2 linked regions of the Homo sapiens genome follow. The protein of the gene in region 2 interacts with the protein of the main gene of each other region in a pairwise test. Each region holds a gene or a part of one and is shown on either strand. Other genes may lie near its edges.

The links. Proteins that work in one complex are often made in the same cells at the same time.
Region 1: the proteins of LARP1B (region 2) and RBBP8NL interact in binary tests that used the Homo sapiens proteins (3 or more experiments, as listed by UniProt).

What each region holds. Positions count from the first base shown.
Region 1 is NC_000020.11:62,417,532-62,424,572, forward strand, and holds part of RBBP8NL (RBBP8 N-terminal-like protein), read right to left. Parts: intron 2,200-7,041; 5' UTR 2,117-2,199; coding exon 2,056-2,116; intron 935-2,055; coding exon 892-934; intron 1-891.
Region 2 is NC_000004.12:128,064,312-128,071,352, reverse strand, and holds part of LARP1B (la-related protein 1B), read right to left. Parts: intron 2,655-7,041; exon of another isoform or gene 1,705-2,654; intron 1-1,704.

The DNA of each region.
Region 1 (7,041 bases), on a different chromosome or scaffold from region 2:
CTGTGACGTCTGTCCCGTCCACGCAACGCCCCCCCAGTCATCTGCACGCTCCTCTGTGACGTCTGTTCCGTCCACGCACCACCCCCCCCAGTCATCTGCACGCTCCTCTGTGACGTCTGTCCCGTCCACGCACCCCCCCCAGTCATCTGCACGCTCCTCTGTGATGTCTGTCCTGTCCACGCAACGCCCCCCCAGTCATCTGCACGCTCCTCTGTGACGTCTGTCCTGTCCACACACCACCCCCCCGGTCATCTGCACGCTCCTCTGTGACGTCTGTCCTGTCCACGCAACGCCCCCCCAGTCATCTGCACGCTCCTCTGTCACGTCTGTCCTGTCCACGCAACGCCCCCCCAGTCATCTGCACGCTCCTCTGTGACGTCTGTCCTGTCCACGCAACGCCCCCCCAGTCATCTGCACGCTCCTCTGTGACGTCTGTCCTGTCCACACACCGCCCCCCCTGTCATCTGCACGCTCCTCTGTGACGTCTGTCCTGTCCACGCACCACTTTAGTGCCACAGCACAGGCAGGACCATAGCCGGGTCTATAAGCCAGAACGCAGGGAGCCTGCCCGCCCGCCAGTGTCTGACCAGACATGACCCCAGCTCACCGTGAACGTATTGTTGATATTCTGATCATGATCCTGGGGTGGGAGAAGCCCCGAGTAGGGGGCTTGCCCCGCCCCTGGGAGGCCGACGCAACTGGGTTCAAGTGCTGGCTTCGCTGCCTGCTCACCGTGTGACCTTGGACAAGTGACTCCCCCCGCCCCCACACTGAGCCTCAGTTTCCCTTCTGCACCATAGGACGGTGGTAGTGCTGGCACACTGGGGCTTCAGGGGGATGAAGTGGCCAGTGTGGTCCCTGTGAGGAGGGGCCCTGCTTGGCCTGACTCACCGGCACCTCTCTGAGTTCAGTTCCAGAAGCTTGTTCTGCAGGCCTGGGGGAGCAAGCAGAGGGGCGGGGGGTCAGGCCCAGCTGCTGCTTCACCTTCAGTGTCCCCACCACGGGGTCTGGGCAGAGCTGCAATGTGGCACTCCTGTCCCCTGCACCCCCTGGGGGAGCCCTGCCAGGTGAGCCCCTGTCTGTGCCCAGGCACGGGGCTGCCTGAGGCTCGGTGGTCTCGGCCTAGCATCTGTTGCTTCCCCTGGGGTCTCTGCCTCCGGCATCTGTCTGGGGGTGTCTGGGGGTGAGCAGGGACCCTGGTGCCACAAGTGACCAGCCACCTGTGAAAGGTAGAGGGACCGAGGGGCCATTTTGTGTGTGTGTGTGTGTCATAGCTAGTGTTGAAATAAGATAAGCTTCTGGGGCGGACCCCACCAGACCCTCTCCTTGCCGTATCTTGGGGATCCAACCTGGGCCTGGCTAGCCCCAGCAGCCCCACCTCTCTGGGTTGCCTAGGAGGCAGCCGGGTCCTTGGACCTCCAGGTGGGTGTGGGTGCTCAGTGGAAAGACCACGGGGAGGTGCTGGCCCTGGGACTGGACTGGGGGTGGTGTGGGGGCTGCGGCCCTGTCCCTCGTGGGGGAAGTGGACAGGGGTGGGGCCTGGGGCGTGTCCTAGAAGGAAGAGAAGAGTTGCAGCTCAGTGCCTTGACATGTTCTGGATGGGTCCAGAGAGCCATAAGCTCCTGTTTCTGGAAGTGGCTGTCTCTGCCCTGGTGAGCTCAGCAGGCCGGCCAGGGTGGGTACTTCTTTCTGCCACGCTGGAGGCCGGCCCACGGGAGAACAAAGCATGGGCAGCATGGGGCCTGCGGGTGGCAGGTGGCCATGAGGTGTTGGTGGCAACCCTTGAAAGTGCCCCTCCCCCTCGGGGTCACACTCTGGGAGTGGCTCGAGGACATCCCCGCTTGAGGTCAGCACTCGGGCCCAGGCAGGGTGTCTGCCACGTTGTAGCTCTGGGCCTTGGGTCAGGACTCCCCTGCCTGGGCCAAAAAGACGGGGTCCATTCCCTGACTTGGTGGGAATTGGAGGTGATCATGGGTGCACAGTGGCCTGCTCCGACCCTTAGGTGAGGGCTGTGGAGACCCCTCCCTAGCCTGGCATCTGTCCCTGGCCCCTCACCCAGGACTTCCTTCTCGTGGATCTCCTTCAGCCTGTTCAGCGACTCCATGAAGCTCTCCATGGCTCCCTGTGGCCCTGGCCCGGGCCCCTCTGCGCTGGGGTTGTGGAGACGCCTGCAGCCTCTACTGCCCCTCTGTGTCCATCCTGAAGAGGAGGAAGAGGGGACAGGGATCCGCTCAGGAAGGGCTTGTGGGCTGTGGAGTCCAGGAGAGGATTGGGGCTCCTTGTGTCTGTATGGAGCAGACCCCATGCCATGCTGTAGGGGCTACTCATGGGAGGTGGCCTGGAGGCTCCCGAACCCCACGGGCAGGCACAGAGATAGTACATTGTGTGGCTTCCTCCCACACGTATGTGGCCGGGGGCCAGAGGGCAGGGTGCTGGCTGCCGTGCGGGAGGGGCTGGAGGGGCCAGGGAGCATCTGGGGTGAGTGCCGGCACCTCTGAGCCACCCCGTTCTCCCCAGGTATCCAGCCCATCAGTGCCTGGCCTGTCCCCACATAAGCCCTTCCCCTGGCACCTCAATGGAGGGACAGGGAAGCCTGGCAAGAGCTGGATGGTGCTGGTGGCACCTGCCCAGCTGTGAAGCTGGGAGTCAGACCTCACCAGTAAGAGCCCCACAGACCCTACCATGCCACTGTCCACACCCCGGCCCCAACACCACTGTCACAGCACCTCCTTCCCTCTCACCAGAGCCCTGTACTCAGTTCCCTCCTGGGATCTCTGTCCCCCTCCAATGCCGTGGCAGCTTCAATCCTGTCCCACAGGCACACACACACACACACACACACACACACACACACACACACACAGATAGCATGTGCACACAACACACATGCACATATATGCAAAAGACACACACAGAGCATGTACACACATAACACACATGCACAAAGACAGACACACCACACAGCATGTATACACACAACACACAGGCACACACCCAGAGTTACACACATACAACACATATGTACACAGACAGGGATGCCCACACACAACACACAGAGACACATAGACATGGGTATACGCAGACACATGCTGACAACAAAGCTGTGCAGACATAGAGACACAGCTACACATGCAGTTGCAGGTACACGGAAACACACACAGCCACAGCAGCCCCCTCTGCCCGGAAGCGGCTCCCACACGCAGATGCTGGAAGGTTCCAGGAAGAGGTAGGAGCCACTCTGAAGAGGTCACAGGCCCCCTCCCTCCCTGCCTGCCTCCCCTACCCACAGGTCTCAGGAGGTCCTTGGTAGGCAGTGGGTATCTTGTGGTCTCACGGACTAAGGCCAGAATTAAGGGGCCGTGGGGCCTTTGCAGGCTGGGCCTGGGGACCTGGGCTGGAGCACTCATCGTCAAACCCTCCCAGACCTTTCCAAATTCCCAGTGGCCTGGAGAGCTCCCAGGCAGGGCTGGGCGGAGTGAGCCTGGGGGCGCTGTGACTGTCTGTCTGTCCTCCCCTGACCCTTCCCCCTCCTCCCACAGATTGGCCTCCAGGCCTGGGAGGTTGGGATACCGGTCAAGTGGCTGGGCCTCTGCAAGCCAGTGTTTGTGGCACACAAACCGCTGCAGTTCAGACTTCTTCACCGGGTGGCTTGTGCTTCACGCGGTCGGGTGGGGGAGTGTGTGTGTTTGCCGTGTGTGTGCACGCCCGAGCCAGTGTGCATGTGTGTGCCGTGTGTGTGCATGATAGCCAGTGTGCGTGTGTGTGTGCCATGTGTGTGCACGCCCGAGCCAGTGTGTGTCCCATGTGTGTGCACACCTGAGCCAGTGTGCATGTGTGTGTGCCATGTGTGTGCACACCCAAGTCAGTGTGCGTGAGTGTGCGTGTGTGTGCCGTGTATGCGTGATTGCCAGTGTGCATGTGTGTGTGCCGTGTGTGTGCATGCCCAAGTCAGTGTGCATGTGTGTGCTGTGTGTGTGTGATAGCCAGTGTGCATGTGTGTGCACACCCAAGTCAGTGTGCATGTGTGTATGCCATGTGTGTGCACGCCTGAGCCAGTGTGCATGTGTGTGGCATGTGTGCATGATAGGCAGTGTGCATGTGTGTGTGCCAGAGCCAGTGTGCATGTGTATGTGCTGTGTGTGCATGCTCAAGCCAGTGTGCATGTGTGTGGCATGTGTGCATGATAGGCAGTGTGCATGTGTGTGTGCCATGTGTGTGCATACCCGAGCTAGTGTGCGGGTGTGTGCCATGTGTGTGCATGCCTGAGCCAGTGTGCATGTGTGTTTGCTGTGTGTGCACACCCGAGCCAGTGTGCATGTGTGTGTGCCATGTGTGTGCATCTGTTTTTGCTCTGTGTGTGCGTGCCCAAGCCAGTGTGCATGTGTGTGTGCTGTGTGTGTGCATACCCAACCTACTGTGGAACCACTGGTGCGTCACCTGAACAACTGTGTCGGCCTCCTCCCTGCCTGGCCTCCTGCTCAACCTTCCCTGAACCCCCTGCCTCCCCCCATCTCTTCCAGGACCACTCTCCATGGTGGCCATCCCTGGGAAGCTCTGGTCTCTGCTCAGATGTGCACCGCTCTGCTCAAAATCCAACTTCGGGCTCGCAGCTGGAGGCCATGCCCAAGGCCTCGCCACGGCCAGCCCAGCCCAAGTGGATCACAGAGCGGAACAGCCATGGCTGCATCTGGGTTCTCAAAGGTCAGCCTGGAGACGCCCACGTGAGGGTCCTGTGTGCAACATCATTCTACAGAACCGTCCCGAACAGGACCGCCTAACCCCATCCCATGACGGGTGGAATATGGTGGCCGCCCAGCCCCATGCCCATCCCAGCGTGGCCAAACCACCCAAGCCAGGCTTGAGGGTGCATTGAACACAGAAAGAGGCACTTGCCCTGGGGCCCTGGAAGTCAGGTGGTGGGCGTCTTTGGGGGTGGGGCTGGGGTGCCTCTAACTGAGGGTGGCAGGCCTTGGACCCCGAGAGAGGCCTTGGGACCCCGAGAGAGGCCATGGGGCCTGGGGTGGGGACGGGGACTGGGGTGGGGATGGCGACTGGGGTGGGGACGGGGACTGGGGTGGGGATGGGGCCCGGAGTGGGGATGGGGCCCGGGGTGGGGATGGGGACCGGGGTGGGGATGGGGACCGGGGTGGGGATGGTGACTGGAGCCACTTGGAAGGAGGGTGTCCTAACTCTTGCCGAGCCCTTGCACCTGTGATCAAGCATTAGTGCCGAGCCTGGTGGGGCAGCAAGGGGTGTGGGACAGAGTGTGGCCTGTGTTCGGGGGTGGCTGCAGCGTCCCCAGGGGCCCCTGACAGGGCTAGTGGGGCTGCATGGAGGGCGGAGCACCAGGATGCTGGGCTGCAGAGGCTCAGTCCACAGACCCGCCTGGGCTTTGGGGCCTCCAGCCACCCTCGGAGGGAGTGGGGGTGACAGTTGGCGGCTCTGTGTTGGGTGGGTGAGGGATCCTGGGACTAGGGAGACTTGGGGCTTTCCTGGTGGGAGGCTGGGAGGGATGTCTTTGCTGGTGAAGGGGACCAACAGGACGCTGAGCTCCAGAGGTGGGGACAGCATGGAGCCTGCCGGAAGCAGGTCACGTGGCCAGCATCAGTGGTTCTGACCCTGTTTCCCGAACTCCGTACACACTGAGACCTTCCTGACAGCCCACGGAATCTTGACCACACCACGAAGACCTCGCTCCAGATGGGGAAACTGAGGCTCAAACAGATCAAGCCTCCCGTCTCAGTCACCCAGTGGGAAGTGGGATCTGGGTTGTGCCCAGCTCCTGGGGCTGTGGGTCTGCATGCTCTGCCTGTGTGGACTGGGGCGTCCTCCCCATGGCTCTGGTGCACCCAGCTGCACTGGCTTTTCCTGGCCAAGGGGGCCCCTGGGAGGAAGATGTCAGAGCCGGGGCCTCCCTGGGCTCAAGCAGCTGAGGAGGGCCAGGAGGGGGCGGAGCTGCAGCTCCTGAAACTCCCCCCAGACCCGCCCAACAGGCCACTCTTCCCTGGCCCCCAGCATCTGCCATGTGGGCTGGGCCGACGCCCATAAAGGAGCCGCCCAAGGGAGCCCATGGTGCCTGCGGGCCTGGGAGAGGTCTCTGGGGTCCACACGAGAGGTGGGCTTCCTTCCCAGTGAAGTCACTGTGGTGCAGAGGCTGGGACGGAGCCTCTGCTGTGCCTCCCACTCACAGGATCCTTTCTGTGCCCGAAACCACCTGCAGCACTCCTAGAGTGCTGGAGAGCTCCGGGGAAGGGATGGGAGGTGGAGGGAAGTTGCAAGCCTTGGTGCTTTTGGGGAGAAGAAATGAACCAGGATTGTAGAAATTCACCCAGACCCGCACCCGCAGCCTTGAGCCAGGGGTCAGCAGCGGGGTCAGTGGGGCTGGCTTTTTCTTCCCGAGTCAGCCTTCTCTGGGTTTGTTGGGCTTGCCAAGGGCAGCTAGGGGTGCTGGGGCTGGGGGAACTCGGAAGGAGGGTCTCCTCCAGGCCTGGGTGGGGGCTGCAGTGGGGCTGTGATGGGGGAGCAAGCCTACCGGGGCGGGGAGGGGCTGGGCTGAGGCTCATGGGGGGCTTCACAGGGCTGGGGTGAGAGAGCTGAGCTCTGGTCCAGGGTCACCCTCAGCCACTCCTCCCACTCCCAGACCCTCCCACTCGGGAGTCCAGGCTGGAGGGTCTCTGTGGGTGCTGAGCCCCCTGGAAGGAGTGGGGGAAGGGGAGGGCAGGCTAGTGAGCCGCTGTCCCACCTGCTGCTTGCAGCTGGGCCGTGGGGGGGGCAGGTGTGAGGGGCGCATGTCTGTCCCCCTCGACACCACTCTCACCCCACCATGCCTTGCCCTCTGCTCCATTTTGCCACTGAGAACACGACCCAGAGGTGGCGTCTTGCCCACGGTCAAAGCTAGTGAGAGCCGGGCTGGGCTTCAGCTAACCCAGGCCGGCAGCTCCGCCTCCTGCAGTGAGGTGCTACTGGTGCCAGCACCTTTGCCTTCGGGGGACTGCTCCTTAAAACCAAGGGGCGACGTGCTGCTCTCACCAGAACGGAACA
Region 2 (7,041 bases):
ACTTGTAAAGGCCAGTGCGGTGGCTCACGCCTGTAATCCCAGCACTTTGGGAGGCCGAGGTGGCGGATCACGAGGTCAGGAGATCGAGACCATCCTGGCTAACACAGTGAAACTCCGTCTCCATTAAAAATACAAAAAATTAGCTGGGTGTGGTGGCGGGCGCCTGTAGTCCCAGCTACTCAGGAGGCTAAGGCAGGAGAATGGCATGAACCCAGGAGGTGGAGCTTGCAGTGAGCCAAGATCACGCCACTGCACTCCAGCCTGGGCGACAGAGCGAGACTCTGTCTCAAAAAATAAAAAATAAAAATAAAAACATTAAAAAATAAATAAATAAAAAGTGACTCATAAACTTAAAAAATGCCCTATAACCTAACAATTCTACTTCTCAGCATCTACCCTAGAGAAAGGCACACATGGATATAAGACATATGTATAAAAATGTTCAGTTTCTTCTAGATACAAAAATGAAAAAAATCAAGATAATCAACAGGTAAATCTCTAAATCAACTATGTCAGCCATATTTAGGACCACTCCTTAGCTATTTTTTTTTTTAATTGAGATAGGGTTTCACTATGTTGCCCAGGCTGATCTCAAATTCCTGTCCTCAAACCCCGGTCACCTTGGTCTCCCAGAGTGTTAGGATTACAGGTATGAGCCACTACAGCCGGTCATCCTAAGCCTTTTTTCTTTTTGAGACGGAATTTCACTCGTTGCCCAGGCTGAAATGCAATGGCACCATCTTGGCTCAGTGCAACCTCCGCCTCCCGGGTTCAAGCAATTCTCCCACCTCAGCCTCCCAAGTAGCTGGGATTACAGGTGCCAGCCACCACACTCAGCTGATTTTTGTATTTTTAGTAGAGAGAGGGTTTCACCATGTTGGCCAGGCTGGTCTCGAACTCCTGACCTCAGGTGATCTGCCTACTTCAGCCTCCCAAAGTGCTCGGATTGCAGGCATGAGCCACCGTGCCCGGGCAGTCCTCAGCAATTTTTAAAAGGAGTTTAGATTTAGTAAATTATCTTCTTTTTTTTTTTGAGACGGAGTCTCACTCTGTCACCCAGGCTGGAGTGCAGTGGTGCAATCTCTGCTCACTGCAAGCTCCGCCTCCCGGCTTCACCCCATTCTGCTGCCTCAGCCTCCCAAGTAGCTGGGACTACAGGTGCCTGCCACCACGCCCAGCTAATTTTTTTTGTATTTTTAGTAGAGACAGGGTTTCACCGTGTTAGACAGGATGGTCTCGATTTCCCGACCTCATGATCCGCCCACCTCAGCCTCCCAAAGTGCTGGGATTACGGGTGTGAGCCACTGCGCTCGGCCTCAGTAAATTATCTTAAGATGACATCAAAGTTTTTCATTTTTGTAAGGAGAATATATTTATGCATTTTTTCTATATAACTTACTTAAAATGGTATTTCATTAGGGTAACAACAGTAAGCTTACTTGAGGTTTCTAGGAACCAAACAGGAGAAAATAAGGTTGATGAACCAAATAGTAGGAGAAAAGAGGTTGATGATGAACATAGGGTTCGAGAAAAATAAGAATAAAAAAGACAGAAAAAAATCAGTATTTTTTAAACATCATATTGTTATGAGTAAAAGAATGGAAATTATACTAGAATGCTGATGTTTAATAGGCAAAAAACAACCATAAATACAAGTAAGGGATTAATAAACCCATATTGTGATTTTAATAAAAGAATCCGTGCCCCTTCTGTCTAGCAGCAGCCATCAGGTAAGCCAAGATGGGGGCATACAAGTAAATCCAGGAGCTATGGAGAAAATGCACTTTCTTCTGAGAGTTGGTTGCTGGCAGTACCACCAGCTCTCTGCTCTCCACAGGGCTCCCCACCCCATCTGGCTTGATAAAGCGCACCAGCTGGGCTACAAGGCCAACCAAGTTTATGTTATATATAGGATTCGTGTTCGCCATGGTGGCCGAAAGCACCCAGTTCCTAAGGGTGCAACTTATGGCAAGCCTGTCCATCATGGTGTTAACCAGCTAAAGTTTGCTCAAAGTCTTCAGTCCATTGCAAAGCGGCAAGCTGGATGCCACTGTGGGGCTCTAAAAGTCCTGAATTCTCACTGGGTTGGTGAAGATTCCACATACAAGTTTTTTGAGGTTATCCTCATTGATCCATTCCATAAAGCTATCAGAAGAAATCCTGACACCCAATGGATCACCAAACCAGTCCACAAGCATAGGAAGATGCATGGGCTGCCATCTGCAGGCCGAAAGAGCCATAGCCTTGGAAAGGGCCTTAAGTGCCACCACACTATTGGTGGTTCTCACCAGGGAGCTTGGAGAAGGCGCAATACTCTCCAGCTCCACCGTTACAGCCAATATAAGTAAAGTTTGTAAAATTCATACCTAATAAACAATTTAGGACAATCATGTCTGCTTACAGGTATTATTTATCTGTTAAAACTAGTCTGCAGACTGCTTCATGAATGCTTTGTCAAGTTAAGAAAAGTTAAAGTGCAATAATGCTTGAAGAGAATAAGTGATGGTGTATCTTCCTTCTAATAAGATAAACTTTTTTGTCTTTGCTTTATCTTGTTAGGGGGTTATATGTCAGTGTATAAAACATACTGTGTGATATAATAGGTTTAAAATAAATTATTTAAAAGAGGGAAAAAAAGGAATCTGCCAGGCCAGGCTCACACCTGTAATAGCAGCACTTTGGGAGGCTGAGGCAGGGAATCCTTTGAGGCCGCCAAGAATTCAAGACTGGGCCTGGGCAATATAGTGAGACCCTGTCTCAAAAAAAAAATAAAAATAGCTTGAGTTCAAGAGTTCTGAGACCAGCCTAGGCAACATGGCAAGATACTGTCTCTATTTTTAAATTTAAAAAACAAAAATAAAATAATTTGCCAGGCATGGTGGCACATGCCTGTAGTCCTAGCTACTTGAGAAGCTGAGGCAGGAGGATCCCTTGGGCCCAGGAGTTCTAGGCTGCAGTGAGCTATGATTGTGTCACTGTACTCCTACGCTAGCCTGGGTGACAAAGTGAGACTCGGTCTCTTAAAAAAAAAAAAAAGCCGGGTGTGGTGGCTCATGTCTGCAATCCCATCACTTTGGGAGGCCAAGGTGGGTCAATCATCTGAGGTCCAGAATTCAAGATCAGCCTGGCCAACATGGTGACACCCCATCTCTACTAAATATACAAAAATTATTGGCCGGGCGCAGTGGCTCACGCCTATAATCCCAGCACTTTGGGAGGCCGAGGCGGGTGGATCACGAGGTCAGGAGATCGAGACCATCCTGGCTAACGTGGTGAAACCCCGTCTCTACTAAAAATGCAAAAAATTAGCCGGGCAAGGTGGCGGGCGCCTGTAGTCCCAGCTACTCGGGAGGCTGAGGCAGGAGAATGGCGTGAACCCGGGAGGCGGAGCTTGCAGTGAGCCGAGATTGTGCCACTGCAGTCCAGCCTGGGTGGCAAAGCGAGACTCCATCTCAAAACAAAAACAAAAACAAAAATTATGCAGGCATGGTGGCGAGCGCCTGTAATCCTAGCTACTCGGAAGGCTGAAGCAGAAGAATCGCTTGAACACGGGAGATGGAGGTTGCAATGAGATTGCTCCATTGCACTCCAGCTTGAGCGACGAGAGCAAGGCGCCATCTCAAAAAAAGAAAAAAAAAAAAAGGAGGTATCCAAAATAAAACTAATACCAAGTCAGGACACAGATGGGAGAAGTTCCTTCTGGTCTCATGACTAAATTTCAAGATAAAAGGCCTCTTGGGTGGGCAGCAACTTTGGCTGAAGAGTGCCTCATCTGGATTTCTAGAAACAGCAACACATGATCAAAATCATCCTAAAAGTGGAAGAAAATTTCTCACAAGGGCCGAGGCATCAAGAATCTGGTTCACTTAGATGTGCAGGTTGTAATGTAGAGAAAATTCATAATTTCTGTCCTGAAATATTCTCCCCTGTGTTTCCTATGTTTCTAACTGTAGTAATAAACTTCCTGGCAAAATTCTGTGGATGGAATTCCTTTACCTCATTAACAGAGTAACAGTAAATCCAAGTTTGAGCAGGATAGACCTGATTTAAGTCTGTTATTTCAATACAATTCTCTCTCTCAAAGAGCATCCTGTTTTGTAGAATTATACAATTTATATAGTATAAATTATACAATCACTAATAGATAACTAATAGATTTAGAGGTACCCACTGTGAACTTTAAACAACTTCTGGTCCTATTTCTTTACTTCTTAAGTTGCAAATTTGCTTAAGAAAATAGCCTGAGGTCAACCATGGTGGCTCACCCCTGTAATCCCAGCACTTTGGGAGGCCGAAGCGGGCGCATCAACTGAGGTCAGGAGCTCGAGACCAGCCTGGCCAACGTGGTAAAACCCCATCTCTAGTAAAAATTAAAAAAAAATAATTAGCCGGGCAACCATGGTTGCGCGCGCCTGTAGTCCCAGCTACTCAGGAGACTGAGGCAGGAGAATTGCTCGAACCTGGGAGGTGGGGGGTTGCAGTGAGCCAAGATCGCGCCATTGCACTCCTGCCTGGGTGACAGAGCAAGACTCTGTCTCAAAAAAAAAAAAAAAAATGGCAAGAAAATAGAAAGCCCGGCCAGGCACGGTGGTTCACACCTGTATCCCAGCACTTTGGGAGGTGGAGGTGGGAGGATCACCTGAGGTCAGGAAGTCGAGACCAGCCTGACCAACATAGAGAAACCCTGCCTGTACTAAAAATATAAAAATTAGCCAGGCATGGTGCCGCTTGCCTGTTATCCCAGCTACTTGGCTGGCTGAGGCAGGAGAATCGGGGGAACCCAGGAGGTGGAGGTTGCGGTGAGCAGAGATCACACCATTGCACTCCGGCCTGGGCAACAAGAATGAAACTCCATCTCAAAAAAAAAAAAAAAAAGGCCGGGCGCAGTGGCTCACGCTTGTAATCCTAGCACTTTGGGAGGCCGAGGCCGGCGGATCACGAGGTCAGCAGATCGAGACCATCCTGGCTAAGATGGTGAAATCCCGTCTCTACTAAAATAATACAAAAAATCAGCCGGGCATGGTGGCAGGCGCCTGTAGTCCCAGCTACTCAGGAGGTTGAGGCAGGAGAACAGTGTGAACCCGGGAGGCGGAGCTTGCAGTGAGCAGAGATTGCACCACTGCACTCCAGCCTGGGCGACAGAGCGAGACTCTGTCTCAATATAACAAAAAAAAAAAAAAAAAAAAAGAAGAAAGAAAGAAAATAGACAATAGAAAGCCGCCAGGCAGGGTGGCTTACACCTGTAGTCCCAGCACTTTGTGGGGGCTGAGGCAGGATAGCTTGACCCCAAGAGCTCAAGACCAGCCTGGACAACAAAGGGGGCCCCTGTCTCTACAAAAAAAAATTAAAAATAACTAGCCGGGCATGGCTAATTCCATGGAATGACATGCGTGCCTGTCATCCCAACTACTTGGGATGCCAAGGCAGGGGAATTGCTTGAGTCCAGGAGGTCAAGGCTGCAGTGAGCTATGATCTCACCACTGCAATAGAGCAAGACTGACAATCTATCTACCTATTTAAATAAACTAATGTAAAATGTATTTATTTAAATGAATTAAATAATATTAAATAAATATATAAATGGAAGCCAAGGCAGCCAGGTTATAAGTGGCACTCTGGTATTATGAACCAGAGGAAATGAGTCTATCCATGTTATTCATTTATAATGCCCAGAAATCTTGCCAGAAGTCAACTAGCCAGTTAGTAACAATACCTGCACTAGAACCCAAGTCTCTCAAAACAGTATGTTTCTACACCACAATCTCTTTTATCTAAGTTACCTAAGTTATTTAACTGCAAATAGACTGTGGTCCTGTTTCTTTACTCCTGAAGTTGTAAATTTGCTTAAGAAAATAGAAAGCCTGATTATGTCTGTAATCCCTGCACTTTGGGAAGCAGGAGGATCGCCTGAGGCCAGCAGTTCAAGACCAGCCTGGGAAACACAGAGAGACTCCATCTCTTGAAAAAAGAAAGAAAAGAAAAGAAAAGAAAAGAAAAGAAAAGAAAAGAAAAGAAAGGAAAGAGAGAGAGAGAGAGAAAGAAAGAAAGAAAGAAAGAAAGAAAGAAAGAAAGAAAGAAAGAAAGAAAGAAAGAAAGAAATTAATTGTGGGAGAACAGTGCAGAGTCAGTGTTGGGAAGAGACCATGGTTACTACACTATGCCAGGTCTGAAAGATGGTCTTCCTGCCAGTGCAGAATGGATTCCATCCAAAGACAGAAAGAGTTGCCTACACAAGACAACAGCAAAACTGAAATTTCCATGAACCATACCATACAACTAGTATCACAGTGTTCTTAATCTCCAGTGAAGACTGGAGAATGAAGGCACCAATAGCTTAACTGTTAAATATTTTTCACAGGTCATTTGCAATTAAAGTTCCCAAGGCTTACCTTGACAGTTTTTAAAGTTCTATTATCATTATTATTATTATTAATATTATTATTTTAAACGTGGTCTTGCTATATTGCCCAGGCTAGAATGCAGTGGCTATTCACAGGCACTATGACAGGACACTACAGCCTCAAACTCCTGGGCAAAACTGATTTTTCCTGCCTCAGCCTCCCAGGGAGCTAAAACTACAGGCACACACTACCATGTATGGCTTCGAAGTTTTAAAATCTATGATACTGGTTTTATGATCAACAAAGAGTTCCTACTTGGTAATTCACTTAATTGTCTGTAAGTCTAGAAGTAGAGAGGTGAAACAGCAAATAAGATGATTCACTAGGGTTTTCTTTCTTTGCTAAATTTTAGAGTGCTTGCCACTGGGCTTTAAAAAAGAAAAAAAAGAAAAACTTTATGAGGTCTTCACTTAACCATGTTCTCTTTAGTTAGTAATAGGAGTAAACAAACAGCTCTTTATAGCGAGGAAGGAATTATGCCAATATTAAATCCAGAGCAAACTTTTTTTCTGCAAGTGTCAAAATTTATCAACAATTAATGAGGAGTATTTCTGTGCAAAGGCAAATGAATGAATTAACTCAACACATATCTCCCTCTTTGGAGAGTTCCTCTGAAGAAATGTTAACATAACATAATGGG